Homo sapiens: one gene and its partners. The protein of the gene in region 1 purifies or fractionates together with the protein of each later gene. This does not show direct contact. Each region holds a gene or a part of one and is shown in the gene's direction. Other genes may lie near its edges.

What was found.
Region 2: the proteins of TBCA (region 1) and DGUOK fractionate together in Homo sapiens (co-fractionation; one large-scale study listed by BioGRID). This does not show direct contact.
Region 3: the proteins of TBCA (region 1) and CLIC4 fractionate together in Homo sapiens (co-fractionation; one large-scale study listed by BioGRID). This does not show direct contact.
Region 4: the proteins of TBCA (region 1) and TIGAR fractionate together in Homo sapiens (co-fractionation; one large-scale study listed by BioGRID). This does not show direct contact.
Region 5: the proteins of TBCA (region 1) and LAP3 fractionate together in Homo sapiens (co-fractionation; one large-scale study listed by BioGRID). This does not show direct contact.
Region 6: the proteins of TBCA (region 1) and THEM4 fractionate together in Homo sapiens (co-fractionation; one large-scale study listed by BioGRID). This does not show direct contact.
Region 7: the proteins of TBCA (region 1) and MSRB3 fractionate together in Homo sapiens (co-fractionation; one large-scale study listed by BioGRID). This does not show direct contact.

The regions. Positions count from the first base shown.
Region 1 is NC_000005.10:77,690,460-77,694,228, reverse strand, and holds the end of TBCA (tubulin-specific chaperone A), read left to right. Parts: intron 1-876; coding exon 877-963; coding exon of another isoform or gene 964-1,107; exon of another isoform or gene 1,108-2,730; coding exon 2,731-2,811; 3' UTR 2,812-3,063; downstream 3,064-3,769. UniProt on the Homo sapiens protein: Tubulin-folding protein; involved in the early step of the tubulin folding pathway.
Region 2 is NC_000002.12:73,933,052-73,937,483, forward strand, and holds part of DGUOK (deoxyguanosine kinase, mitochondrial isoform a precursor), read left to right. Parts: intron 1-4,432.
Region 3 is NC_000001.11:24,841,900-24,845,519, forward strand, and holds the end of CLIC4 (chloride intracellular channel protein 4), read left to right. Parts: 3' UTR 1-2,422; downstream 2,423-3,620. UniProt on the Homo sapiens protein: In the soluble state, catalyzes glutaredoxin-like thiol disulfide exchange reactions with reduced glutathione as electron donor. Can insert into membranes and form voltage-dependent multi-ion conductive channels.
Region 4 is NC_000012.12:4,323,735-4,328,166, forward strand, and holds part of TIGAR (fructose-2,6-bisphosphatase TIGAR), read left to right. Parts: intron 1-605; exon of another isoform or gene 606-1,105; intron 1,106-4,432.
Region 5 is NC_000004.12:17,575,223-17,580,198, forward strand, and holds the start of LAP3 (cytosol aminopeptidase), read left to right. Parts: upstream 1-1,975; 5' UTR 1,976-2,243; coding exon 2,244-2,345; intron 2,346-4,601; coding exon 4,602-4,717; intron 4,718-4,976. UniProt on the Homo sapiens protein: Cytosolic metallopeptidase that catalyzes the removal of unsubstituted N-terminal hydrophobic amino acids from various peptides.
Region 6 is NC_000001.11:151,902,323-151,906,754, reverse strand, and holds part of THEM4 (acyl-coenzyme A thioesterase THEM4), read left to right. Parts: intron 1-4,432. UniProt on the Homo sapiens protein: Has acyl-CoA thioesterase activity towards medium and long-chain (C14 to C18) fatty acyl-CoA substrates, and probably plays a role in mitochondrial fatty acid metabolism. Plays a role in the apoptotic process, possibly via its regulation of AKT1 activity.
Region 7 is NC_000012.12:65,284,793-65,289,224, forward strand, and holds part of MSRB3 (methionine-R-sulfoxide reductase B3 isoform 2 precursor), read left to right. Parts: intron 1-4,432. UniProt on the Homo sapiens protein: Catalyzes the reduction of free and protein-bound methionine sulfoxide to methionine. Isoform 2 is essential for hearing.

The DNA.
Region 1 (3,769 bases):
ATGATAAGCATCAAAAATATGAACCTGCTGGTCTTTGCTTTTCGTTTTTCTTTACCTCTCTCTTTCAGTGTGAACCTCCTGCAGTGTGCACACGATGTGATCAATAACTCAATAACTTTTTTCATGCAGTAATTATCTCCATGTGATATTATCTGAACACTGTTTTTCTTTATTACTCAAAAGATGCAGGAGATATTTATATAACCAGCTGATCCCATTTTAGATAAAGGTGCTTTGCAACAGCAGGGGAAATAGTTTATTTTAAATAGCCTTTTAAAATAAATGCTCTATGAAAAGCTTTTCCAGTTAACTTTCACTTAGCATGAGAAGGTGATTACCAAAAAGATTTAGTTCTAAAACTTGCACTTTGTAGATTTTACAGTATGATAGTCTTTCTTTTCTAACTTTTTTTTTTTTTTTTTTTTTTTTGAGATGGAGTTTCACTCTTGTTGCCCAGGCCAGAGTGCAATGGTGCAATCTCAGCTCATCACAGCCTCCGCCTCCTGGGTTCAAGCGATTCTCCTGCCTCAGCCTCCTGAGTAGCTGGGATTACAGGCATGCTCCACCACGCCCTGCTAATTTTGTATTTTTAGTAGAGACAGGGTTTCTCCATGTTGGTCAGGCTGGTCTTGAACCTCCTGACCTCAGGTGATCTGCCTGCCTCGGTCTCCCAAAATGCTGGGATTACAGGCGTGAGCCACTGTGCCTGGCCTTTCTAACTTCTAATAAATACAATTTAAGTTAAAATATTGAACCATTTAACATAACCATAACTTTTTTCTGATTCCTCTTAATAAGGATATACTTACCAAGATATGAGCTAAACACCTACAAGTTCTGCCATCTTTGAACGTCTCACAGAGATTCTCATTCTAGGCAGAGATCCTACAAGAATCCAGGATGATGATCCCAGATTGCCAGCGCAGGTTGGAAGCCGCATATTTGGATCTTCAACGGATACTAGTAAGCAAAGACTTCTGTGTCATGTTTAAATTTTTTTTTTCAATCCAATACATGGAAAGCCAAAAGTTTAAATATTTAACACTGAGAACTAGTTGGCAGTATTTCTTATTCACTTGCCCTTTATACCGCTATATTTTAAAATAATTAATGGAGTTTAAATTGTGTTTTGAATTATGCCTCCAGTAAAAGTACTGTTTTCTAGCATGTTTGTTCAGTTTATTAAAATTTAGCTAGTTAAATTTATTTAAGTTATGATAGTACCAGTATTGTCCAGCAATGTCTTGATTATTTGGTTTTCATACATAAAGATCTTTTGAGACATTGAGGATGAGTTGACTGATTAAAATTTTAAAAGATCTAATGTTTCAAAAGAATTTGGGATCTTATTAAAAGGATCTTGAATTCTTTCACATTCAAACCTAGATCAGTTTGAGAGGGGGAAAAAACCTGGTAATCTATGTAGTCCCCTCATACTAACTTGGAGCTGAATAACACTTATACTTGCTGGTATAAATGCCTTGTGATACAGAAGGTAGATAAAGCAGGAAATAATAACTGTTAAAATACTATCTAAGACAGGAAGCATCATTTGTATTTCTTGACAGTTTAAATGCTTTTTTCTCTCATGAATCTAGTAGCTGAGAAAGTAATAGAAATTGCTTGGAAAAAAATAATGTTGGCCGCCAGGTGCAGTGGCTCATGCCTGTAATCCCAGCACTTTGGGAGGCTGAGGTGGGTGGATCACGAGTCAGGAGTTCAAGACCAGCCTGACCAACATGGTGAAATCCTGTCTCTACTAAAAATACCAAAATAATAATAATAATAATAATGTATTTGGATGATATATTTGTATGTGAAGATGTATTCAACAATATCTCTGCCCTTGAAGAGCTTGTATTTACTAACAGAGAACAAAGATGTGTTTAAGGTATAACATGGAGGTTTAAGAAATTCTTACGTATAGTTTGAGCTAAGCAAATTCTCAGTCGTTTTGCTTTCAGTTTTCATATTAAATACACACATACTTTATTTCCTCTACTGTTTGTATATCTCCATCTTTTATTGACCTGACATAAATTGCTAACCATAGCTTCATTTAAAAATCAAACAAAATTTCCTGTGTACTTTAGATAATATTATTTCATTTGTCTGTTATCATTACAATATATTAGTAAAAGTTGCCTGTATATCAGTATTATGGAAAAACTCAATCTTTAAATATCAGAAAATGAAAGATGTATTTTGTTTCCTTTAGTGTAGGGTATGTAATACCCATTAGCAAGCAGGCAATTCATTTGTTTAATTCAAAGATTATATTTAACTCTGTTGTGACATCAGAAGCCTTCTTTGTCATTGTGAATAGTCAGTGGATTATTTTGGCCTGAATGCTGTCATATATGTAACATGTTAGTAAATCTTCCTTTTTACTTTTCTCTTTTGTATGATGATGATGGGTCAACAAAATGAGAATAAACTTTTTCTGAGGTTTTTATTTAATTAATGCTGGTAGCTTTAGAAGACTGTTATTCACTTATTTTATGAGAATATATACAGTGAAACAAAACCACCAGTTATTTCTTCCTTTCCTTGTAAAGAAGGAACAGAATGTGGGAAACCTGTGGAATTACAATATATTTAGATGAGGCTTGGGATTTTTTACTTTTAATTTTTTAGTTATTAACATTAATGGTTTGTAATATTTGAGTAAATAACAAAGTACTGAAACTTGAAAAGGATAAACTTAATTTTTATTGTATTTCATTTTAGGAAAATGAAAAAGACTTGGAAGAAGCTGAGGAATATAAAGAAGCACGTTTAGTACTGGATTCAGTGAAGTTAGAAGCCTGAAACTTTTCTCGTATGGGGTGGTTTTTGCATTAAATCCTGGGGTCCATTTTACAATCCATTATTTTTGACCACTGCTATGTGTTCAAGTAGTATGAGAATGTGATTGTTTTTATCTGGTTACATATATATTTCTTTGTCTAATTTAATATGTCAAATAAATGAGTTCATCTAATAAAATTGTTTATTTTATACTTTACAAAATTTTTAAATTAACCTTTTATCATTAAACCACATAGACTTTATGACAGAGAACTATAATCTGTTAGGTTCTATTCGAAGTCTACATATTTTGCTTCACAAGCATGGATTGAGTTTTAAAAAATAGAATACCATTTTTTCAAATAACAATCCAAATTTTAGTTGGGTGTAGTGGTACATATCTGTATTCCCAACTACTGGGGAGGCTGAGGTGGGAGGATTGCTTGAGCCCAGTAGTATGAGGATGCAGTAAGGTATGATTATGCCAATGTACTCCAGCCTACGGAACATAGCAAGACCCTATCTCTAAAAGATTGAATTGTAAGCAGTTTATTTGGAATAGAATACAACTGATATAAAAGGAAGAACTCTCTTTGGGGAAGGTCTCACATAATAAGGCCTTCACAGTGAAACTCTAACATTTCCATGACTATAAATGAATGAGAAACATTTAAATCTTTTTCGAGGACAGATTCACACAGAAAACACCCCCAACCATTTAGATCTTCAAATAAGATTCTTATGAACAATGAAGAGTTGAATGGTATTTTGAAACAATAATGGCCATTGCCAGTGAAGTGCTGGCAAATATTTAAAGACTCTTCAGAATAGGAGGGGAACCTCTGATTGGTAGCTTTTGCTGATTTCTGTGGTATAAATACTCCTACCTTTGACCAATTTCAAACTACTAATATGACATCACTGAACACAGAGTTATGAAAATTTGGGCCAGCTCCACCATAATTTGGCTGTAGCCAAT
Region 2 (4,432 bases), on another chromosome or scaffold:
GAAAAGAGGAAACTCTTTTGCACTTTTCAATCAAGAAACTTAAACATAAAGCAGTAGAGGGCTTCCCTAATAACATGTTTCCTCCAGCATTCAAAATTAGTGACTTCACATCACTAATATGTGTCTTACTTATTTTAAGTATAAATGATTGGGCAAAGAATCCTTGGGAAAAAATAGCCTATTTATTTCAAATACTGTATAGTGGATTCTCTGTGCCTGTGACTCACCTCCTTCCCTCCATCACTGTTCTCATACTCAGGATGCAAAGGTTCAGTCTCTGTCTTCAAAAGTGAGCTCCCAGTCTAGCTGGAGGGAGTGATGAGTGAACAAATAATTACAGCGTAATCCTTTGGTAAACCAGAGCAGGCAGTAATTAACTCTGCCTAGAGATGAAGTGGCGCTGGAGAGAGTTCAAGGAGGCTTCACAGAGAAGGTGGCAGTGGAAAGCTGAATCACCTGGTAGGCAAGGCGGGAGGAGGGGATGTCAGATCAGTGAGGGTCTTTTGTGCTGAGCAGATGAGTTTGGATCATAGGAAGGTGTGAGAAAATTTTTTGCCTTTTTTTTTTCGTAAACAGTTTTTCATGAAAAAAGGTCATCAAAGTAAAATGTATTAAGTTTTTTTTAAGCCTGCTGACTGATTTTTATTAACTTTGCCTAGAATGCCTTTAAGCTTGGAGCCTGTATGATCCTGGGTACTCAGTCTTGGGGTTGGAATATAACTTGAGGGCAAGCTCTCAGCCTAGATCATCATTTCAGTTATAGTACTTACCTCTGAGTAGCTACTCCATAAACATTTGTTGATTGAATGAGTGAGTGAATGAATGCAGCATCAAATACAGTATCTGAAATAAAGACTTCAATTTTTTTTGGAAGGACTTTTTAAAAAAGACATTAGACAGTTTTATATGTTCTGACTTTGTTGGATTTTGGTAAAAGATTTCAGAATTGGATTTTTTTTCTCATGTTTTTCATCTTGTTCAGGAGATGAAAATGCCTAGAGGTGATAAATATAGGCTCCTATGAAATACAGCTGTATTAGACGTAAAATAATGGGATCTGTTATTTTGGGTATTACATCATATGCTATCTTGCTGCTAGATTTTAGCATTACATAGCTATGGTAGGCATTGTCAGTTTATAGAAAATTTTGTGGGGAGAAAAAAACATGCCTTAGAAAAAGATGAGTGGTAACAACAGAACTCTTTGTCCCAGCTTGTGGAATGAGAATAGTGGAGCTAATGAAAATCAACATGTTGAAGTAATATACTCTTAAGAAAGTACCTTCCACCTTTTTTTAAGGTTGTGGCAATATAACAACAGAGAACACTGGTGGCCAGGGTCCTAAGGGAAGGTTTGATGCTGCTTGTAAGTTCTGATACCTTCCAAAATTCATAATACTGAGAGTATATTGAAAGACAGGCCGGGCGATGTGGCTAACCCCTGTCATCCCAGCACTTTGGGAGGCTGAGGCGGGCAGATCACCTGAGGTCAGGAGTTCAAGACCAGCCTGGCCAACATGGCGAAACCCTGTCTCTACTAAAAATACAAAAATTAGTCAGGTGTGGTGGCACGTGCTTATAGTCCCAGTTACTCGGGAGGCTGAGAGGCTGGAGAATCAGTTGAACCCGGGAGTTGGAAGTTGCAGTGAGCCGAGATCACCCCACTGCACTCCAGCCTGGGCAATAGAGCAAGACTCTGTCTCAAAAAAAAAAAAAAAGGAAAGAAAGATAACAGCAGTGGCCCGGCGCAGTGGCTCACGCCTGTAATCCCAACACTTTGGGAGACCAAGGCAGGTGGATCGCTTGAACTCAGGAGTTTGAGACCAACCTGGGCAACATGGTGAAACCCTGTATCTGCCAAAAATACAAAAATTAGCCGGGCGTGGTGGCACACACCTGTAGTGGTCCCAGCTACTCAAGAGGCTGAGGCAGGAGAATCGCTTGAACCCAGGAAACAGAGGTTGCAGTGAGCCGAGATTGTGCCACTGCACTCCAGCCTGGGCAACAGCTAGACTCTGTCTCAAAAATAAATAAATAAACAAACAATATATTGGACAGGTCAAACATACTGGACAGCTACTCAGGAGGCTGAGGTGAGAAGATCACCTGAGCCCAGGAGGCAGAGGTTGCTGTGAGCCAAGATCACACCACTGCACTCCAGCCTGGGTGACAGAGAGAGACCCCCATCTCAAAAGGAAAGATAGCAGCTAAGCTGGGATCTAACTAAATTGCAGTAAGTCTGAGATAGTGATATCATAAGAGATTGGCTGAAGAAGTATGGCTTTCTGTAGACAGGGGTGTTCTGGTCACTAGGAGGAGGCTTCTGAAGCAATGGAGAGCAAAACACCACCACTCTTAGGAACCCCCTGTGAACATCTTGAAACATTTGTCAAAACAAACAAACAAACAACACCCCAGCAAGAAGGGAAAAAAAAAATCTATGATGATCAGGTATCACAGCACTGAGAAAGTTATACTGTGTCTGGCTTTAATAAAACCATGTAACTTTGAATTATTTTTTAAAGTAATTATTCCACATCTGTGGGTGGTACCTGGCACAGCTCAGTTCCAGTGGAATTAGTTTAAGAAATACTGCCCTGTAGTGAATTACCCAGGCTCTCCAAGGCTGAGAAACATGGATGGCACAGCTCTCAGGACATTTCACCACCATTTACTGTCATTGTATGCTGAAGCTGCCTTGTGATTACTAAACTAGCTTTCCAGAAGCCTTGGAATGGGGCATGGGTTACAGAGTACCCTGAGTATTAGGTGTTATTGTTCCAGTCATTGGAACTGTATATTTCCTGTTACATCTAATTTGTTGGCATTCTAGAATTAATGTGTTTAAATTGCATGAGTCAATTTCTTGGAGTCCTGACTGCTCTTAGATGAACTAATAGTGTCTGACCTCAGAGCCCTTCCTTTCCATCTGCAACAGTTTTTTAAGGTAATTGTTTTTAACTTTTAAAAAATATAAGTAATTCTAACAATTGTTCAATCCCAGCCATCTAACAAATCAGCTACGTTTATCTTTTCATTTAATTAAAATAGCTTTTTAGCTATTAAATAGCAGGGACCATATTTTAGACTTGTTAAACAACCTACAATCTAAATATTGACCATCTGGGCCAAATATTTTAAGCGAGGGCTTACTCAGGGCAGACAGGTATCTGATAATATACACATTCAACCACTTCGCACCTGACCAGTGTGGTAGGAATTCAGAGCTAGAGAAGTCCTGAAGAAGTGGCACCTTAGGCTTGCTGGGGGAAAGGATTTAGACACAGGCCTGGAAGAGCAGGGGAGGGCATTTATTCATTGGAGTGTGGGAAGAGCAGGGATCGAACAGATGTGAAGAAGCACACACAAGTTAGGTGGAGGTGGGGACTGAGAGATGAGCGTGACTGTACAAATCCACAGATTCATGCTGTTTGTTCTTATCCTGCCTATTCAGAGAGGAGTTGGGGTGGCATGTAGTAAATGTCATCTATTAAATGTGTGGGTTCTTATGCTGAGACATCAGCACCCCAATCAGTAACCATAAGTGGAAGGATGCCCCCCTTCTTTCCCTTGAGAAAGATTACTTCTGATAGAGGAGATTGAGGTCCAGATACAGTCTTAAGATTTATTTTTTATTTTTCACAAATGTAGGTTTCAGAGGGAACTGAAATTAGTAATATATTGTGTATTTTATTCATTCAGCTAGGTCATTAGGTTGTAATTTGTTTTCTACCCTGGAGGAGCCCCATCCTGTAGCTGGAGAAACACAATGACAATTGCAGTGATGGAGTCTCACCCAGAATACCAACCATGCAGAAAGGAGGACTAGCTAATCCAGCTTAGAGGTGTCAGGATCTGGAAAGGCTTCACACAGGAGGTTCATCTAAACAGAACCTTGAGGATTGAGTAAGAGTTGGTCAGGTGAGGAGAGGAGGCGCTTCAGGAAATGGGAAAGCATATGCAAAGTCATATTTGCAAGAGAACATGGCATGATTGGAGTTTGGTCCTGCAGGAGGGTAGGCTACCTAAAGGAAAGCCAAGGCCAGAGAGGCATACACAGGGATCAGATCTTCTTGTGTCTTGCAGACCATGTTAAAGAGTTTGGAGTTTGTCATGAAGCTTGTTCAGGTCTTAGCTCAGATGTCACTAACTTCCCATTGCACTTAGAATAGAATTCAGACCTCTTACCATGGCCACAAGGCCCTATGTGATCTGGCCCCGGACTGCCCATGTGGCCACACCCATCTTGAGCCACTCCTCCATTGCTTGCCCTTGCTATAGCCAGTTAGCCGATAGAGAGCTGTCAAAAGATTGTAAGCAGTGTTATTTCATATTCAGTCTGGCCACAGTATGGAGCATGGATTGAAGAGAGCAAGGCCAGCATCAGAAAGGCAAGAGATGATAAGAGGCTGGTCTTGAGCATGGAGGTGGG
Region 3 (3,620 bases), on another chromosome or scaffold:
ATTAACCTAAGGAATGAAGGGTGGGTTTGTCAAAATATCAAGTAAATTTTTGTTTCTAAAGTACATTTAATGTAGATGACCTAAAGAATGCGTTATCCATCCTATATAAAAGAAAGATAAAACACAGGTCACCAATTTTCTCATTTCACCCCATTTACCTTGTATAGAGGATTGTTCATTCCTTTGGGACTAAGTTATAGTTATGGTGAGTGTGTATTTACTGTAGTTTTGCCTGATCTCACTCATTGCACTTCCTGGAGTTAAATTTTCCAACAGCCATGTTGAGGAATAGCACTCTGCATGTTTTTGTTTTGTTTTTCGGGGTTTTTTTTAATTGAAGCCCTAAACCAGGAATTATTTGTGTTCTAACAGGAGGATGAACTTGCTGAAAATAAAACTTTGCTATGTATTTACTCTTTTTTAAAAGACAAAAGCAAAACCAGACTTTCTACGTACTACTCCAAAGACTGTGATTGTGACTATAATACATTTTTGGTAATTTTTTTATACCTAATTTGTATAGGAAGTGCTATTTCTCATAGGCTGTTTCTTGAAATTTTAAGTTTATTGCTTTAAAATGGCAGTGTTTCTCCCACTTTGATATGCTAACATTTAGTAAGCACTGGCTTTATGAAAGCGGCTTTTTATAAGTATACTGCATTTTTTGAGCCTATCATTAATTAGCTTAGTATGAAAGATAAGAAAATCTCCATGTTGTATCCATTTGGCTCAGGAAGATTCTTTGCCTTACCTTTCTTAGAACTCTTTATTGCTTATCAAAAGTTTGAGTACCCGCTTGGTTTTTTTTTGGTAATTAAATATTGTATGATTTATCTGGTTCAAGGAAGATGCACTATTCAGTTATCTATTGAGAAATTATTTTGCAGTGGTTTTAGTGGGTGAAAATGTCCCATCTGCACCAGTACACAGGCAGGCATTATCATTCTTCACCTACTTTTTAAATAGTGGCAACTTGGGATTCATTCTGGTGATTCTGAACCTTGCCTCATAGCTTAAAGTATAAAAAAGATTCAAGAGCAGTGAGGTTTGTTCTTTCCAGTGAATGGTGGACTGAGTGGTGCGAGGTGGAGGGCTAACAAGAGGAAAGAACTACATTCTTCAGAATACAGTGATGAAAATTCATTTTGAAACTCAAATATTTTCATTTTGGATATTCTCCTGTTTTTATTAAACCAGTGATTACACCTGGCCATCCCTCTAAATGTTCTAGGAAGGCATGTCTATTGTGATTTTGATGAAGACAGAATTATTTTTCTCTGTAGAAACACAGATACCACTTTATCAGGGAAGTTAGTCAAATGAAATGGAAATTGGTAAATGGACAAAAGCTAGCTAGTAAAAAGGACGACCCAGCAACATGCTTTAACCCCATTGTATGTTTGTGGAAAGAGCATAGTTTAACATCTTGAGAAATTTGGGACATAAAGTTTTCATGGTAGACAGTTCATGCAGTATATGAATTGCCATAATGGAAATAATCTGATTTTATTTTTACAACTAACATCCATTCCCCTTCATTTAAACACCTTTTGTGTTTTACTTCAGTGAGGAGATTGGAGTCTGAATGGATCTGTTTTCCAAGAGATTCTGAGAAATTTTTGTATTCAGCAGTTGGAAAGCTCTCTATTCTAGTTGATAAAACTTCCCTTTTTTGATGTAGATGCAGATATTCTATACAGTTCTGTTGTCTTTTACTAGGACTGTAAACTTTTGTGATAAAATTCAAATAAGATTTTATTTCTTGGTAATTTTGGCTTTCACAATTTATCTTTAAATCCTTGAGCAATCTGTATACAATTAAGAGATTTCTGACATTTATTCTTACACTAAATGGATCAACTCTAGGATTTAGGCATGTTAACTTCTGTTGTGTTTTGAATCTCTCCAGAGTTGCATGTAGATAGCATTTATTTCTGTGCCCTTAAACCCATTTAGAAAATAACTACAAAGTAAAAATGTAGAGGAAATAGAAATGTATTTTTTCATGAACATTTTGATACAAATTTCATCATTTAATGATTCACCAATTTCTTGCATTAATTTGAATTTAAGCATTTAATTCAAAGAGAGGGGAGCATCCATTATTGATACATGTGGGCTTTTAAAAACTCCATCCTTTATAAATAGTCAAGGTTTGGGCCACACAAAGTATATTTTTATCATGGAAAAATTTCAACTCCTCAAGCCGTAATGTTGAACAGAATTGGAGTATTTTCTTTATAATTTCTTGAACAGGCAAATGAAAGCTTATTATAGAATGCATGTATTTTCTTTTATCTTTGGAACATCAGCACCAGTATATTGCTGGCAGCTATTGTATTAAAAAATAAAGTATATTTTCACTATCATAAAGGATTCTTTTTTCCCCCCTCATGAAAATAAACAACAACTTGGGGTAAAAGTGTTTGAGACTACTATTTTTTTTTCTATGAGTGATTCAGCACATTTAATAGGTTAAAGGAGAAAAACCATAGGATCATTTCAATAGGTACAGAAAATAACTTGATTAAAATATTCATGCTACTCATTCTTAGCAAAATAGGTAACTTTTTTTTTAACCTGATAAAGACTTTTATTGAGAACCTATAGCAAATGAAACAGAAGCGATCTCGTTAAAGTCAAGAATAAGACAAGGTTGCCCTCTATCACAGCTACTATCCAGCTACTTTAACAGCTACTTTATTTAGAGATATCCTAGCCAATGCAGTAACATCAGTGAAAGGAATAAAGAATGGAAAAGAAGCAACAAAATGACTGCCCTTTGCAGGTAATGATGTTGATGGTGTGTATGTGTATAAAATCCAAAATAACTTACAAATACTAAAAATAATTCAGCTGGATTTCTAGTTGCAAGATCGAGGAACAAAATTTAATATAACTACTATATACAAATAGTAAGCACATTGAAAGCCAATAGAGAAATTGGTAACATTGGTTTTTTTCTGGAGGAGAATTGGGTGCCTGAGGTAAAGGGGTGGGAAATTATCAATGTATACTTTTAAGTTTTTAGAAATTGGTAAATATATTACCTATTCTAATAAACAAAAAGTGCTTTAAAAAACGAATAAAGATCCTAAGTGATTGAGGATCAAATCAAACAATGTGCAATTCCTAGCCAAGCATGGTGGCTCATACCTGTAATCCCAGCACTTAGGGAGGCCAAGGTGGGAGGATTACATGAGGCCAGGAGTTCAAAACCAGTCTGGGCAATACAGCAAGACCCTGTCTCTACAGGAAAAAAAAAAACAAAAAACAAACAAAAAAAAAAGCCAAGTGTGGTAGCATGAGTCTGTAGTCCTAGCTACTCGGGAGGCTGGGGAAGGAGGATCTCTTGAGCCCAGGAGTTTGAGGCTATAGTGAACTATGGTTGTGCCACTGTACTCCAGCCTGGGTGACAGAGCAAGACCCTGTATCTTTTTTTTTTTTAAGTGCAATTCTTTATGGAGAAAAGTACAAGACATTATTGAAAGGCCTGATAGAAATTTGTTCAATGGATAGGCATACCATATTTATGGATGGAGAGCTCAAAAGCATGAAAATTTAAATTCTGACTACTTATAAATATATTTGCCAACAAGATCCTAACAGGTGTTTTTGGA
Region 4 (4,432 bases), on another chromosome or scaffold:
TTAATATAATTGTGTGGAGTTATGACAATAGTTTATTTTGTTCTGTTTTATGTGTAGGAAGATGGAGTGAGAGGGCTGGTTCAATGCTTTCCGGTCTGGATCCTCCTGCTTCTTGCCTTCAGAGTTCTCAAAACCAAAACCTGGTGATTCTTTCAGGAAAAGAAGTGATTTTTAAATTTGACTCATTATCACCATAGTTAAATGTAATGACTTTTTGAAGAGTTAGATAATTTTATTGGACTTACCTCTTCAGATAATGCAAAAAAATCTTTAAAGCAATTTAAGTTCAACAGAACCTGTTAGGAATCTTGTGCTGTTCCTGTATGTGGTTTATCTTTCTTCATACTTTGAAATGAAAGTACCAGTGTGTATCATTTCTGGAACAGACTGCCCAAGATTCCAGAATTCAAGTCTATCATCATTGTCAGACTATAACTTCTCATGAGCTTATGGCACAGCATTGTTGAAAACTCCAACACGTGTAGGTTGGCATTACCATCACCTATCCAGCACTACTGAAGGGTCTGGTTCCTTGGAATGTTGTAGGTGTTTGCAGTGAGTCCCCGGCAAAACCATCCATTTAACTTCCTTTTTTTTTTTTTTTTTGGAAATATGTGTGCCTTTATTAGCTGAGCCACTACTTGAGGGGGATGAAGCGGGAGGAGTGGGTGGCCCCGATGCCGGGCCGGCAGTGCTTCACCAGCTTATAGGTGATGGAGAACTCGCCCAGGTAGTGACTGATCATCTCCGGCTTGATCTCCACCTGGTTGAAGGTCTTGCCGTTGTAGACGCCCACCATGCTGCCCACCATCTTGGGCAGGATGATCATGTCCCGCAGGTGCGTCTTCACCACTTCCGGCTTCTCCATGGGCGGTGCCTCCTTCTTGGCCTTGCGCAGGCGCTTCAGCAGCGAGTTCTGTTTCCGCCGCAGGCCCGGGTTCACTTGCGGCCGCTGGCACGCACTGTACAGCTGCGTCAGCTGCTCGCAGGACACGTCCCGTCCCGCAGCTGGTCCAAGTCTGTGCCGCGGTAGGTGAGTTTGCGGAAGGTCCGCTTCTTCTGCTCTACCTCGGCCATCTTGTCGGATCCTCAGAAAAGTTCACTTCCATTTTTAGGCAGCTCGTAAAGCTTTAAAATTTTTTGGCAAACTAAATTTAATATACTTTTAATGATTTAAAAATGAATTAGTAAAGTTTTTTTGTTTTTGCTTTTTTTTTTTTTTGACGAAACGGAGTTTCACTCTTGTCACCCAGGTTGGAGTGCAATGGCATGATCTCCGCTCGCCACAACCTCCGCCTCCCGGGTTCAAGCGATTCTCCTGCTTCAGCCTCCGGAGTAGCTGGGATTACAGGCATGTGCCACCATGCCTGGCTACTTTTGTACTTTTAGTAGAGATGGGGTTTCTCCATTTTGGTCAGGCTGGTCTCGAACTCCCGACCTCTGGTGATCCGCCTGCCTCGGCCTCCCAAAGTGTTGGGATTACAGGCGTGAGCCACCCCACCTGGCCGAATTAGTAAAGTTACTGATAGCAAAACTGATTTTTCTTACTGTACTTTTATTGGCAGTTACTTTTTGTGTAATGCTAATAATTGTTCTGTATATTAATAAAGCAAGCAAAATACTATTAGCTCATCTGTAATTTAGTATTTTTATAAAGCTAATACTTTTATAAAATTTTAATGCTCTATAAAAGTATAAAGATACCTTGTACAGATACTTTATAAAGATCAAAGACAGCCGAAAGTCCTGCAATCCCAGCACTTTGGGAGGCCGAGGCGGGTGGATCACCTGAGGCCGGGAGTTCAAGACCAGCCTGGTCAACATGGTGAAACCCCGTCTCTACTAAAAATACAAAAAATTAGCTGGGCGTAGTGGCACTCGCCTGTAATCCCAGCTACTCGGGAGGCTGAGGCAGGAGAATCTCTTGAACCCGGGAGGTAGAGGTTGCAGTGAGCCCAGATTGCGCCGTTGCACTCCAGCCTGGGCAACAAGAGTAAAACTCGTCTCAAAAAAAAAAAAAAAAAAGAAAGACCACCAAAAGTCTTGTGTTACTAGCTCTTGAAATCTTCTATATTTGCAAATGAATGTATTAGTGTAAAGGAATTAGGACTAAGCTGTATTCGTGATATCAGGTGAGGGTTTACATTTTCATTTACACTAAAGAACAGCTTTCCCATGATTTGTTCCTCCTTTGTAGCACGCTGAGTATTGTGTGTTGAATTTGAATTCCTTAAATGGAATTAAGGGAAATTGAGGTTTCTGTATGATTTTTGAAGAAATGCTGCAGCGTATAAATCCAGGCTAACAAGATATAATGTCTTTTAAGAACTGTGAGATAACCTACAAAATGAATGATGTATATTTGTAGGGCCTATAAATGGCTGATCCTAAGACTTAACATCTTGGCAGAAGCACTCGGATTCCTGCAGAGTCAGGTTTCTGTTTTGGAAATGGACCACACTGCAGATTTTGAAAATGAGTGGTGTTATTCCTGACTCCTTCAAAATATATCCCTCTGACCTTTCAGCTCCGTTCACCTTCTCTGCTGCTATCACAAGTCAGACTTGGTTAAGGGAAATAGATTAATAGTAAAACTGTTTTAGCCATCAAGTTTCCTTTCCCATTCCCCAAACGTACTAATTAAACAGTTACTTCAAGGATTTATATAAACCTCTTAATAAAGCTGATAAAAGCTGTACAACTAAATATTTATGAAAGCTTTTGGAAAAAAATCTATTTTTGGATTCCTACTCTTTAATATTTATAAAGTGATTTGAACGCAAAAATGCCAAATAGAACTAAACTGAATGCTGTGATTGTTAATAATACTATTGAGTCTACAGCAGCCTCTGTTGATATATGGCTAAATGAGTCCTTCATTATATCACAGTGGTTATGCTGCTTTCACTGAAAATCGTTAGATGGTGGGGCAGTACTTTTATGAAACTATCAAATTTCTGGGATTCCATTTTTTATAAAATGACATTTTGACAGTGTAAACCTTTATTTTAATTTGAATCTTTCATTATCTACTTTGATTAAATAAAAATGCTGAGTTACTCTTCAGCAAGTATACAAAAAGTAATCATCTCTGCCAAATTTCTGTGATTTGTAAATTCTGAGTTTTTTTGGTGGCTCTTGCATGATTTCTTGGTTGGCAAATTATTAAATTTCTTCTCACCCCTCATTTCAAAATGAGGGTGCTTCTTTGGCTTTGGCTGGAAATTGTGTTAGCAACCTATAAAAAGAAAAACTTTAGACAAATTAGACTTAGTTTATTTGAGCAAAGAAATGAATCATAAATCAGGCAGCACCTGAACCAGTAAAGCTTCAGAGTGCTCACCCAGTGACATAGGCAGGCAGTATTTATAGACAGAGAAAGGAAGTGACATGGCCAGGCGCAGTAGCTCGCACCTATAATCCCAGCACTTTGGGAGGCCGAGGCAGGAGGATCACCTTAGGTCAGGAGTTAGAGACCAGCCTGGCCAACATGGTGAAACCATGTCTCTACTAAACATACAAAAATTAGCTGAGCGTGGTGGCGCTTGCCTGTAATCCCAGCTATTTGAGAGGCTGAAGCAGGAGAATCGCTTGAATCCTGGAGTTGGAGATTGCAGTGAGCCGAGATCACACCACTGCACTCCAGCCTGGGCTGCAGAGTGAGACCCCATCTCAGAAAAAAAAAAAAAAAAAGAAAGAAAGGATGTGACATATAGAGATAGCCTGATTGGATACAGCTCTGCTTTGCCTTATTAGGACATGTCTGAGCAGTTTGCAGCCCATAATTGGCTGAAAGCTCAGCTGCCATGCATGGTTGGCTGAGACTTGGTTTTTATTACAGGAATATACTCTCAAATTATGTTGTAGTTTGTGTGCATATTAAGTTAGGTGACAGCTCCCTAGGCATGGAGGCAGTTTTAGGCCAGGTTTAAATTAAGGGCTACAAGCCACTGTCTAGCGAGGATGTTACTTGTTTTGTTTTGTTTTTGAGGGCGCAATCTCGGCTCACTGCAGCCTCCGCCTCCTGGGTTCAAGCGATTCTTCTGCCTCAGCCTCCCGAGTCGCTGGGACTACAGGCACACACCACCACGCCCAGCTAATTTTTGTATTTTTGGTAGAGACGGGGTTTCACCATATTGGCCAGGCTGGTCTCAAACTCCTGACCTCATGATCCGCCTGCTTCGGCCTCCCAAAGTGCTGGGATTACAGGCATGAGCCACCGCGCCCAGCCGAGGATGTTACTTATATTGAAATAACAGATATTTTATTCTTGGTCTCAGCAAGATTTTGAGGCTGAGACAGGAAGTGAATCCAATACATGGTAACTATTTTCTAGATTAAAAATGACAGGTTCCCCATGTTTGCCCTGAATGCTTCTGCTTTATCCATCTGAATGGTAGAGGCTAATATCCTCTTTCATGCCCATTTTATA
Region 5 (4,976 bases), on another chromosome or scaffold:
GCTGGTGTCATTATTAAGAACAATTTTTGTATCCCTCCTCGTGCTTACCCATATTCTCCGAGTTGCATTCAGCTGTGTACTTTTTTACAATGAGAAATTTAAAACCAGCCGGGCGCGGTGGTTCACGCCCGTAATCCCAGCAATTTGGGAGGCCAGGGCGGGTGGATCACTTGAGGTCAGTACTTCAAGACCCACCTGGCCAACATGGTGAAACTCCATCTCTACTGAAAATACAAAAATTAGCCAGGCGTGTTGGCGGGCGCCTGTAATCCCAACTACTTGGGAGGCTGAGGCAGGAGAATCGCTGGAACCCAGGGGTGGAGGTTGCAATAAGCTGAGATCACACCAGTGCACTCCAGCCTGGGTGACAGAGCAAGACTCCGTTAAAAAAAAAAAAGTAAAAAATAAGGAATTAAAAAAAACAAAACGCTTTACAGAAAATAAAAATATATAAAAATATTGAGCACTACTTGAAAACTTTCTATTGAAACCATCCCCACTGTGTTGACAAAAATTTCATGCCAAGTTCTAGGCAGAAATATAGTTATAATTAAGCATTAATCAGGCTGTACTTTGGCCCACTTCCTTGTTGCTAAAAGTCACCTAGCACTACATACTGACCATTTGCATTCCCATTGTTCCTATAGACAGGATCTCTGACATTAGAATCATAAGCTTTCTGTTTAAGGATCGCTTAAGATATTTTTCAGACCTTGAATTCCAGCTACCAGTTTGAAGATCCCCAGAGAGGAATGGGGTCAGCTTAAGAATACAGGTTCTTCAACGCCCTGTCCCATGACTTCACCCTGCACTCTTCAATCAACGATCTCCACACTATAGCCCTCTCCAAAACCCTTAAAAACCTTGACCCCAAATTCCTCAGGGAGATGGATTTGAGGTTTCCTCCCATCTCCTCCTTTGGCGACTCCACGATTACACCTCTTTCTCTGCTGCAACCCTGGTGTCTGGGCGTATTGACTTGCTATGTGCACGAGTCAACGAACCTAATAGTGTTACATCATTTTCAAAAACAGTATTTACACCGTTGCACCTGTGGAACAGATGAAAGGACACGAATAAAAATAACTCAGGCCAGGTGCGGTGGCTCACGCCTGTAATCCCAGCACTTAGCGAGGCCGAGGCAAGTGGATCACGAGGTCAGGACTTCGAGACCAGCCTGGACAACATGGTGAAACCTCGTCTCTACTAAAAATACAAAGAGTTGCCGGGCACGGTGGCTCACGCCTGTAAGTAATCCCAGCACTTTGGCAGGCTGAGGCGGGTGTATCACCAGAGGTCAGGAGTTCAAAGCCAGCCTGGCTAACATGGCCAAACACTGTCTCTACTAAAAATACAAAGATTAGCCAGGTGTGGTGGTGGGCGCCTGTAGTCCCAACTACTCGGGAGGCTGAGGCAGGAGAATCTGTTGAACCCGAAAGGCGGAGGTTGCAGTGAGCCGAGATTGCGCCACTGCACTCCAGCCAGGGCTACAAGAGCGAGACTCCGCCTCAAAAAAAAAATCCAAAAAAACAACAAAAAAACACAAAGATTAGCTGGGCGTGGTGGCGGGCGCCCCTAATCCCAGCTACTCGGGAGGACGAGGCAGGAGAATCGTTTCAACTAAGCAGCGGGAGGTTGCAGTGAGCCGAGATCGCTCCATTGCACTCCAACCTGGGTGACAGAGCGAGACTCCGACTCAAAAAAACCAAACAAACAAACGAAAACTCAGTGGGAGTGTCTTCACTATGCAGTCGTCTATTCAGCAACCTTGACAACAAGCTCTGGCACTCAGTTTCTATTTCCCGGGAGTTGCCCAGCGCTCCGCCCACGCCCGCTTGCAGAACTCGCCCCGCCTCCGCCCCACCCATCGTGTGACGTCACCATATCGGTCCCGCCCCTCTACTTCGCGTTGCTCCCGGGACTGTCAACCGCGTCCGGAAGCCCCGCCTTTTCGCCCCCGCCCGCATGCGCGGGCGCACACGAATGCGGGCGCACACGAATGCGGGCGCACACGAATGCGGGCGCACCCTTGAGTCCCCTCCACAACCGCGGTTTGATCCCAGCGGTCCAGTCGGCCGGTGCTGCCCATCCGTCCCGCCCCCTAGACGCACGTCCGCTCGCCCGGCGCCCGAGCCAGTCCGCGCGCACGCCGTCTGCGCCCCGAAAGCCCCGCCCCAAGGCGCGCCCGCCCACCGCTCTCCACGTGCTCGCTGGAGGGCGGTGCGAGGGGCCGAGCCGACAAGATGTTCTTGCTGCCTCTTCCGGCTGCGGGGCGAGTAGTCGTCCGACGTCTGGCCGTGAGACGTTTCGGGAGCCGGAGTCTCTCCACCGCAGACATGACGAAGGTGAGAGGCGGCGGCTCGCTCATGGTCCGCCGCTGGGGCCCTGCCCGTGGGCTACTGGGGCTGCGGGGCTGGTCGAAGCCGCGGTGTCCTGGGCGCCCAAGCCAAGTTGCAAAAATCAGTTTAAAAGAAAAATTCTCTCCTTGCGGGGATCGGCCTAGGCCGCTGAGGACCCCAGCGGTCGTATTGAGGGCGCGATTCCCCTGCTCGGGGCTAGGGGGTGATGGTTGTAGCCGCCCTTTACCCGGCTCCACTCGGCCGCGCACTTGCTCCAGTCGTCACCCGCGGTCCTGGCAGTAACCCGGGGAAAGACGCGGCGGTGGGGCTCCCATCCGAGCTTGGAGGAAGCCCGAGTTTGCCAAGGTGAAAGGGTTTCTGAGGTCCCAGAGTCACAGGGCTCCTTCCCCCGCGGAAGTGAAAGGTCAGGGAGTTAAGTAGCTTGGAAGGGTTTCTAGAGGAAAAGCATGCCTCTCTAGAGAAAAGGGCTTTGGGGAGAGACCCACGTTTCCCAGAATTAAGAGCATCTTCCAGAAGAAAAGTGAACTCCAAAAAATTACGAAGGTCGCTCTTCAGATGTGAAGGATCTGCAAAGGGAATGGCTCTCGGAACCAGCACAAGCTTGGGAGTCATGCCTAAGCACCAGAAAGAGATGACTGTCCCTGCAGAAGAACGTTCTAGGGGGAGCTTGAGCTCCAGTCTCCTGCAGGTATCTCAGTGGTGGAGGGACCAGTCGCCTGACCAGTGCTATCTCCAGTACTGTGCCACAGCCTACCCAGATAACAGTTGCTCAGTTGGCTCCATTGATTCCCGGGGAGTGAACAATCTTAGGGAAGTTAGAACCTGGCAGAGTTACCAATGCCAAGGAAGGCCGTTTTCTTTGGTGGAAAAGACCGAGAGGGCACTATTCTAAGTGTCTGTGTGGTTTTGTGGAAAGATCAACTGCTGGGCGGGAAGACATCTGGATTCTCACTCAGTCCTACCACACCACACAGGAGCTCCTGTCTCAAACTAGGTTTCAGTTTCCTTATCGGTCAAGGGGGATAAGGCTACTTGTTCTTTCCACCTCACAGAGTTGCCATGAGGCAGACAAAACATTTTTAAAGTCATAAATTGCCGTGCAAAAGTAAATACTAAGTATTACTAGGTTTGCTTCCTCATTTCTGGTATTTGAGACCTGAGACTTGTGAAGGAGATGAAGGGAGTGAGCCGCTAAGTGCTTAGCAGAGTGCTTCTACCCTCCCTAGGAAGTTGGTACTTCTCTTACAGCCTCTGTGTTGACCACAGTCCTTACGTGGCAACAGTCCTTACGATGGGAGGCACAGCCATTGGCTTGACTGGAACGGCATCCTAGAATATCTGGGATTTGCACTTGAGGATTGTAGGGGAGGAAAATCTTCCCTCTATCCTCCTAGGTTCTGTGGCTGGGCCTAAGAAAACTGACATAAGATGTATTAACAAGAGAAAAGGATACAGATTTTATTTACTATTTTTACGTGTACACAGGAGTCTGCAAGAGGAAAATGAAGACCTGAAGAAGCGTTGGGCCCAAAAGCTTGTATACCTTTTTAAACAAAGAACAATGCATTGTGGGGGTGTGACAAGACAAAGGGGCTTGGGTTAGTAAATTGTGGAATAATGACTAGGAAATCATATGGGGGTAACTAACAGAAGATAAGGGTGAGTTCAGTAGGTTTATTTGTACAGGTCCATTTTGGTGTTGACTTCCAGTTTCTGGTGATAAGAATGTTCTCCTTTTCCTGGTACAGGGAGATCACCTTTCTCATGGGAATTTGTGTGACCTGCTTTTAGGGAGAAAGGGAGGTCAGAGAGTACCTCTGCACCTGCTGTTTCTCAAGCGCCTTTGGCTGAAAATAACTAATGTGCCAAAGCGGTATATTTTGGAGTGGCATGTTCTGAATCCTTTCAGGGTCTATCTTGGTGACAAATAGATTTTTCTTAAACAAAACATCTTTCTGCTTTATTTGAAAGTGAAGCCGTCTCCTAGGAGTGAGCACAGAAACCCAGGGCAATGTCCAGGACGGGCAGTGATGGGTCTTGCTTTGGCAGGAATCTGAAACACTTGGGCAGGTGCACATGTAGCTGACCCCAGCACCTGCTTCTTTTTTTGCTTTCTTCTGTCCATGGGGAGGACACGGTTTGGGTGGAATTATTTGTTCCTTCTGGAATTTGGGGACTCCTGAGCCTCTCTAAGGGATCTACTCTAATTCTATTATATTTACGTTTTTTGCTTATTCCCAGGGCCTTGTTTTAGGAATCTATTCCAAAGAAAAAGAAGATGATGTGCCACAGTTCACAAGTGCAGGAGAGAATTTTGATAAATTGTTAGCTGGAAAGCTGAGAGAGACTTTGAACATGTAAGTGTTGCTTGTGGGCTCTAGTTCTTAAAGTGCCCCCAAATCGAAACAGTATTTTTTCTTTCTTTTCTTTTTTGAAACAGAGTCTTGCTCTGTTGCCCAGGCTGGAGTGCAGTGGCACGATCTTGACTCACTTCAACCTCTGCCTCCTGGGTTCAGGTGGTTCTCGTGCCTCAGACACCCAAGTATCTGGGATCACAGGCATGCCTCACCACTCCCGGCTTTCATATATATATATATATGTATTTTTTTTTTTTTT
Region 6 (4,432 bases), on another chromosome or scaffold:
TACAGAGTGTCGATTGGTGCATTCACAACCCCTGAGCTAGACATAGGGTGCTGATTGGTGTGTTTATAAACCTTGAGCTAGATACAGAGTGCCGATTGGTGTATTTACAGTCCTTTAGCTAGACATAAAGGTTCTCCAAGTTCCCACTAGACTCAGGAGCCCAGCTGGCTTCACCCAGTGGATCTCGCACTGGGGCTGCAGGTGGAACTGCCTGCCAGTCCCACGCTGTGTGCCCACACTCCTCAGCCCTTGGGTGCTCGATGGGACTGGGCGCCGTGGAGCAGGGGGCAGCACTCATCAGGGAGGCTCGGGCCGTGCAGGAGCCCACGGAGGGCGTGGGAGGCTCAGGCATGGCAGGCTGCAGGTCCCGAGCCCTGCCCCGCCAGAAGGCAGGTAAGGCCCAGTGAGAAATCGAGCGCAGCGCCAGTGGGCCGGCACTGCTGGGGGACCCAGTACACCCTCTGCAGCCACTGGCCCGGGTGCTAAGCCCCTCATTGCGTGGGGCCGGCAGGGCCGGCTGGCTGCTCCGAGTGCAGGGCCCGCCAAGCCCACACCCACCTGGAACTCCAGCTGGTCCACAAGCACCCCGCGCAGCCCTGGTTCCTGCTCGCGCCTCTCCCTCCACACCTTCCTGCAAGCTGAGGGAGCCGGCTCTGGCCTTGGCCAGCCCAGAAAGGCGCTCCCACAGTGCAGCAGTGGGCTGAAGGGCTCCTGAAGTGCCGCCAAAGTGGGAGCCCAGGCAGAGGAGGCGCCGAGAGGGAGCGAGGGCTGTGAGGACTTCCAGCACACTGTCACCTCTCACTATGACCCTTGCTTATGCAGCCCAGGTGGCTGTTATCTAGGCTTGCTCAAAAGAGCCTTGCAAGTGCTTATCTCATAATCTTCACTATGGTGCCCAGACGGCCGCAGCCTAGGCCTACTCAGGCATGTCTTATAACCTTCACTGTGCTGTTTAGATAAAACAGAATACTTGAAGTTACTAGTTACAGAAAACAGGAATCTATAAACTCATAAAACTTGCAGAGCAAGGTACAATCACACGGAAGGGGATGGGATTCAAGGGGGAACTTTACTTTTTCTTATCCTTTTGTTGAGGGAGTGCTGGAAGAGTCTCCAGAGCACATCCTTTGAGCCCTGGTTTCTTTGAGAATGTTATCAAGACTACACCCGGGTCAGGGCTTTGCCTGTTACTGCCTTTGGGATGAGTCAGCCTCATATAGAAAGCTTGTTTTTCACTTTTTAAATTTTATTTTGCTTTCTTCAATTTCCTGCCTCACTTCCTCAGGCCCCATATTTGAGCGCCAAACACAGTTAGGGTGAGAGTGAGACTCTGTCTCAAAAAAAAAAAGGACTTTCTTCTCAATTCATCTAAGTTCTTGTCACACAATCAGGAAAGATCAGTCTTGTGGACACAGAAGGGTGAGAATAATGGAATTTATTGGGCAAAAAAGGAAAAAGAGAAAAACCTCAGCAGAGGAAGAGGGAGCTGCTCCTACCCTGCCACACAGGAACTCAAGAGGCCAGGCTCCTTGCGTCTGCCAATGGCATGAACTTCTGTGGCTCCACCCTGTTCTCCCAGTCAAAGGCTGGTGGGAGGTTCTCTGGGGAGCTCTTTTTACTTCGCTGTCTTACCACTTTATAAATGTGTAACCAAAGCTCAAGCAAGACCTTTCCTCTGTTCAGGACAACAAAATATAATCGTTGTCCCTAACATTTCTACTTCATTTATAATCTATGCTTTGTCTTTACTTCAGGTATCTCTTAGTTTTCACCTCCTTGAACTGAAACCTTTATTATTTCTATTTCTACATTATTATAGTGTCCATCTGGAGTAACAAATTCAACCCCTGCCAAACTAAAATTAATAGTTACACTCCTGTTTTCTCTCTCCTGATCCACATGTGCACACTAAGAAAAACCTTTCTTTTCATTCTATTCACCCTAGTTTTCAAAGCCACAGCTCTAGATAATCATTCAAGACTCTTCTGCTTTCTCTTTCCCAGTCAGTAACTCCCCACATCCCTCAGTCCCAATGTCCTAAATATCTTAAAACTTTACTTTTCATTACTCAGTACCTAGTTCAGATTCTGACCATATCTGACCTGGGCCTTTGCAACAGTCTTTTAACTGGTTTCCCTACCATTGCATTTCACCATTTTAATTCATTCGTTACACCAGATGGAGCTTTCTAAAACCTATGTTCATATTACTCCCTTGCTTAAAACTCCTTAAGTCTCCTCATAAAGGAAAAACGTGCTGTATCATTCAAGTGCTTTCATGATTCTTTAAAGACGCCACTTCTTTAGTTAACTTAATCCTATGTAATAACATTGGTGAAATCACGTGTGAGTTTTCTACTTATGTCCTTTTATAATATATGAATATATTTTGTTATATTTTAAAATACATATATTTTTGTCCTTGTGCCACCTAAAATCATTTTTCATGCTGGTCTTTGGAAATACTGACCTAGAAGTTGAAATCTAAGCCCTATGGTGTGATCCCTCTAGTTCTTCACATCTTGCTGCTCTTCTCTTTCCACCTTACATATATGAAGGCTGAAACCCTAGCAGTTCCCCAATGTGATACGTTTATTTCAATCTCCTATGCCTTCGCTTGGAGCAGGCCCCCTCCCCATTCTCTCCTTAATGAACTTTTTATCCGTAGGAAATCACTCCATCATTTCAAAGTTTTCCCTGAAAGTCATCCGTTCTATGCCTGTATCTATTTCTCTTGTAGTATTTTTCACATCCAAGGCTGCTAACACTTGAAGGCAGGGTCTAAGTCTTCTCTCTGTTTTACCTGTCCCTCACATAGAACCAGGGCATGTAGTAGGACTCAAAAAAAGTTTCTTGGATTTAACGGAATCCCAGACTTTAAAAGTTAAAATCAGGAGAACCCACAGTTAAGGGAGTCATTCTAATTCCTAAAAGTATTTAATTAGCTCTGTATCCATAAAAGGACAGTGGAACTGATGGATCCTAGTGTTACTTGTTTAAGATGAGACCAGTGGCTAATGAGATGAGTTCAAATTCATAACTCCAAAGCTTATACATACTATTCTGCCTCTCAGTTGACATGTTTTGGTCAATACATAGTAATCTGTGATGAATTGTCTTGTTGGGTTACTTCTAGATTCATGTCCTTTAAAAGTTACATAATCAGGACTGGATTCTAAGGAAATAATCCAAAATAGAGGAAAAGCTATATTCATAATGTTCCAGTGGACATTTTCATTTAGAGCAGCAAAAGATTGGAAATAATTTAAATATCTACCTTAATGGCTAATTATATAGTATATCAGTTTAATGGACTATTTTTCTGCTATTGAAAATGGTGGTAACTGATATTACGGAGAAAGTGAACACTAAATAATTTCAAGTGGTAAATGTAGAAAGCAAAATTGTGGGATTTTTAAAATTTTGTTTGTTTTTGTTTTTACTGAGATTACAAGTATATTAGGAAAAATTATATTTAAAAAATTTGGAGGAAAGAAAATTTGCCATTAATTATATTAAGAGGGAGAGATGGGTGGGTTTAAAACTTTTTCTTTTCTTTCTTTCCCAAATTTTCTGAGCTGGGTTCTGGAAGGATGAACCAATTAAAAAATATATATATATGGAAAAAGATTACAAATCCTGGGCTAAGGGCAAAGTGGTTTCAACCCTGATCATGTATCCCCAACCCTCTGATACTCCAAAGTCAGGACTTCCTTTTTTTCAGCCAGGACGTTTTTATTCTGTAGAGTTTTTTGTTTGTTTGTTTTTGAGACAGAATCTCACTCTGTTGCCCGGACTGGAGTGCAGTGGTGCAGTCTTGGCTCACTGCAACCTCCACCTCCCTGGTTCAAGCAACTCTTGTTCCTCAGCCTCCCAAGTAGCTGAGACCACAGGCACACACCATCTCGCATGGCTAATTTTTGTATTTTTTGTAGAGATAGGGTTTCACCATGTTGGCCAGGCTGGTCTCAAACTCCTGACCTCAAGTGATCCACCCGCCTTGGCACCCCCAAAGTTCTGGGACTGCAGGTGTGCCACCACGCCTCAGCTTCCATAGAGTTTAGTTTTGATCTGTTTTGTTTAATTTTTATTTTTTAATTTTATTTTTCCATAAGTTATTCAGGTACAGGTGGTATTTGGTTACATGAGTAAGTTCTTTACACTAGTGATTTGTGAGATATTGGTGCACCCATCACCTGAGCATTATACACTGCACCATATTTATAGTCTTTTATCCCTTATCCCCCTCCCATTCTTCCCCCCAAGTCCCCAAAGTCCATTGTATCATTCTTATGCCTTTGCGTCCTCATAGCTTAGCTCTCCCATATAATTGAGAACATACAATGTTTGGTTTTCCATTCCTGAGTTACTTCACTTAGAATAATAGTCTCCAGTCTCATCCAGGTCACTGGGAATTTGGGTTGGTTCCACGA
Region 7 (4,432 bases), on another chromosome or scaffold:
TGAGGGGACATCACATTTACTAACTTGAGAGATAATACATGGGAAGTGTTGGACAAAGGATACTGCATCCAGAATGACCTTTCTAAACTACAAAATCATTTCCCCTCTTTCCTGCTTAACCCTCCCTCAGTGGCTTCTTATCTTTCTTCAGATAAAGGACTGACTCCTAAATGTCTTCATCATCACCAATTTGAACACACATTGTGTCTCACACTCCTCCTCGTTCCTCACTCTTCTTCCCCAAGACTGGACAGAATGTGAAGAAGATATGATTTCCACCAGATGGAGTACTCTTTATACTTTTTTGGGGTCCTTTATGGTTACTTTTTGTGGCCATGGTCAGGTTCTTATCCATAAAATAATTATTGATAACTTCCTAATGTAAAATGAAAAATAATGATAAATCACATACTTCCCTCATTTTTACAGAATTCCTTGCTTGCCTTATCTCTTCAAGTGTTGACTGCAAGGTTCCTGTACACTTACTTGAGTTGGCCACTCCGGTCACTATACCCTGATCTCTGACACTTGGCCGTGGTAGCCTGGAGCAGCATTGTTACTGGGCATTGCTGTGATTGGGTTACCCAGCTGTGCTGATGTGGAAACCTCAGGGCTATTTATTGATACTTGGTTTCCTAAAGGAAAGTTGAGGGAATGTATTTTATGAGAGGGCTTTATTTACACGATTAAAGAGGTTTATAAAATGTGGAGATGAATATAGGTGAAACAGAGAAAGAATGCTGGTATAGGAGGTGTTTTCGGCTGGGTTTGGTGGCTCATACCCGTAATCCCAGCACTTTGGGAGGCTGAGGCGGGTGGATCACTTGAGTCCAGCCTGGGCGGCGTAGTGAGACCCATCTCTACAAAAACTACAAAAATTAGCTGGGCATTGTGTTGCATGCTTGTAGTCCTGGCTACTCAGGAGGCTGAGGTGAGAGGATTGCTTGAGCCCAGGAAGCAGAGGTTGCAGTGAGCCAAGATCGTGCCACTGCACTCCAGACTGGGCAATAGAGTGAGACCCTATCTCAGAAAACAAACAAAAATCCCCAAAAAACCAGGAAGTGTTTTCTTAGGGTCTAGTTCCCAGGCGAATGGTATATCCTGATTCTAGGTTTATAAAAATAGTATATTATTCATAACATTTGTCTAAAGTGACACATTTACATACAGTATATAGTATTGAGTAATTTCCAACTCTTTAAAAATAATGGAGACCCTTTCATGTAGTAGTAACTATGTTTTTAGTATCTGTTGACTGAGAAAATACGTAACAGCAAAAGCTACTATAAAACTTTGAAATAAGTTCTTGTAAATGTAAAAAAAATTCTCATATATTTGGAAAGTATACATGTGGAAATTATGACTTATAGAGTCTATGGACACTTGATTTCTTGCTTTATGGATACTCTCAGGAAGTTCTGGTCTCAACTTTGAGTATCTCATTGTCCTCTTACTTTAGAATGTGGGGTATGGGGGAAAACTTCTATTTGAAAATTTGAGCCATAGCGGAAATTTTGGAATGACAGGGAAACACCTTCTCAGAATCCTCTTACAATAAAATTTATATATGTTATGCCAGACAATGTACTTTATACTAAGACTGGACTTTTAAATAGTCTCATGGATTAGAAGTCAGATACAATAAATAAATACTTTTTAAAAATTATATTTTTAGGTATATGAGCATTGTTGTTGGGACTACAGTGCTATTTTAAAGTGAAATTTAGTTGATTTGCATGTGAGTATACACCTACAGGTCTCTGTTATAGCCGTGACATGTCTTCTGTTACTATAAATTACATAACAAATCCTTATGGTTTCTTGGGTCACTTATTTTATTTAAAGACAAAAACATCTTTCAGTACATATGTAAGACTTAAGGCATTATTGAAAATAAGCCTGTGCTACATGGTAGAATCTATTAAAAAAAAAAAAACACTCAGGCAAGGCACAGTAGTTCATGCCTGTAATCCCACCACTTTGGGAGGCAAGGAAGGAGGATCACTTGAGGCCAGGAGGTCGAGACCAGCCTGAGCAACATAGGAAGACCTAGCCTCTACTAAAAATTAAAAAAAGAAATTAGCAAGGTGTGCTGGCATGCACCTGTGGTCCCACCTCCTCTGGAGGCTGAGGTGGGAGAATCGCTTGAGCCCAGGAGTTCGAGGCTACAGTGAGCTATGATTGCACCACTGTACTCCATTCTGGGTGACAGAGCGAGACCCTTTCTCAAAAAAAAAAAAAAAAAAAAAAAAAGCAAAACCAAAAACCGAAAAACAACTCAGGACAGTCTTTGTATAAATTAGATAGCCCTAAATTTTATGTTTGTTCTTTCATTTCTCTTTTTTTTTTTTTTTTGGCTGCCGCCCAGGCTGGAGTGCCATGGCAGGATCATAGCACACTGCACACTGTAGCCTTGACCTCCTGGGCTCAAGTGATCCTCCCACCTCAGCCTCCTGAGTAGCTAGGACTACAGGCTTGTGTCATCATGCATGGCTAATTTTTTAAAAAAAATTTATGTAGAGATAGGGTCTCCCTATGTTTCCCAGGTAGGTCTTGAACTCCTGGACTTAAGCAGTCCTCCCACCTTGGCCTCTCAAAGTGCTGGGATTATAGGCATGAGCCTCCACGCCCAGTACATTTCTTTTGTTTTTATTGTGTTTGATTGTCAGAGAACCTGAGTTTGGTTGGGGTTGAGAGAGAACTATAGGGCCTATTATAGGTGAATACTTATTTTATCTTAGATTAGTGGTGTGTAGCTAAGGAAAGGTAAGGTCATATCTTCCTGTAACAGTCCAGATTAGATAGGGAAATGGGTGAAAAGCCACAAGTTGTTTTGCAACTCTGGTCTCACAGTAATTGAGAGCAAAAAGGAAAAAGTGCACTGTAGTCCCCCTTGTTTCTGATTTTGTGGGGTGTGAATATGCCTTCTAGTCAGATCGCCTTAGGGGGCCAGGAAGAGGAGGGTTGAGGGCAGAGCATGTTTACCTGCGTGCAGAGCCACTTGAAAAATTATAGGCTCATTTACATATTTGCATCCTTGTGTATGTGTTTGTGTTGCAGGGGAGTCAGTGTAGTATTATGAAAAGAACATTTGACAGTGAATTGGAAAACTAGGTTTTTCTAGTCTTGTTTTTGCCTGAGTCGTTTAAGCTTCTTGTGCCTCAGTTTTCATATCTGCAAAATGAATGAATTGGACTGGGTAATACCTGGTGTTGCTTTAAGATTCTGTAGGCTGGGCATGGTGGCTCTTGCCTGTAATCTCAGCACTTTGGGAGGCTGAGTCGGGCGGATCACGAGGTCAAGAGATTGAGACCATCCTGACCAGCATGGTGAAACCCCATCTCTACTAAAAATACCAAAATTAGCTGGGCGTGGTGGTGTGTGCCTGTAGTCCCAGCTACTCAGGAGGCTGAGGCAGGAGAATCACTTGAACCCGGGAGGCGGAGGTTCCAGTGAGCCAAGATCATGCCACAGCACTCCAGCCTGGCAAGAGAGCGAGACCCCGTCCCCCCCGCAAAAAAAAAAAAAAAAGATTCTGTAATTTAAGGATTATTTTAAAGTCTCCAACTTTCTGTAATTTTTAATGGAAAAATATAGTTAATACAGTATGCAAAATTATGTCTTTTTAAAAAATATTTTGTTCAAGTTGACTATCTTGTGCGATTCACTATAAGTGTTACACTGCATCTAAGATCTTATGTTTGAACTTCGTAGCCTAGTGTGCCCAGTAATTTGAGCTACTGGCAAAGTTACATAACCCTTTTAAAGATTTAGTATTTAAAGAATAGATTACAATGTATCAGAAGCATCATATTAAATATCCCATCTGAAGTAATGGTATTAAGGACTAGAAATTATGTCTTTCTAAATGTACAGCTGGGAATTGCTTATTTATGCTTGACAATAGATTTCAGATGAGAAAAGTCCTCATTTAGCAGGATATATTACCATTGGAATTTGCCTCTGATTACCCTATTAAATATATTTAACTCTTAAGGTTGGTTAATCTGGTCTTATTTTTAAAAAAAACTTCACTGTGAGTTTTAAAGAAAAAAACTTGGCTAATTTGATGATTTTAAAAAGTATCTTCTCTTGCCTGTAAAATTCACTTATAAGATTTGTCCTTTTTATGAGAGAATATTTTATACACAAAAAAGAATATATAGTGTCTATATAAGGTATAAAGAATATTTTAAAAAAATCTGGGTACCCTCATCCAGCTTCAGAAATGAAATGTGAAAGATGCCTGTGAGACACACATTTCCTGTACTCAGAAGTACCCATAGTCCTATATTTTGTGATTATCATTGAACACAAATAACTGATAAACCTTGCTTTCTTTATAGTTTTATCATAGATGTATGTCTCTATATCATATTGTTCAGTTTTGCATATGTTAGAACATTATATAAATGTTATTGGCCGGGCGTGG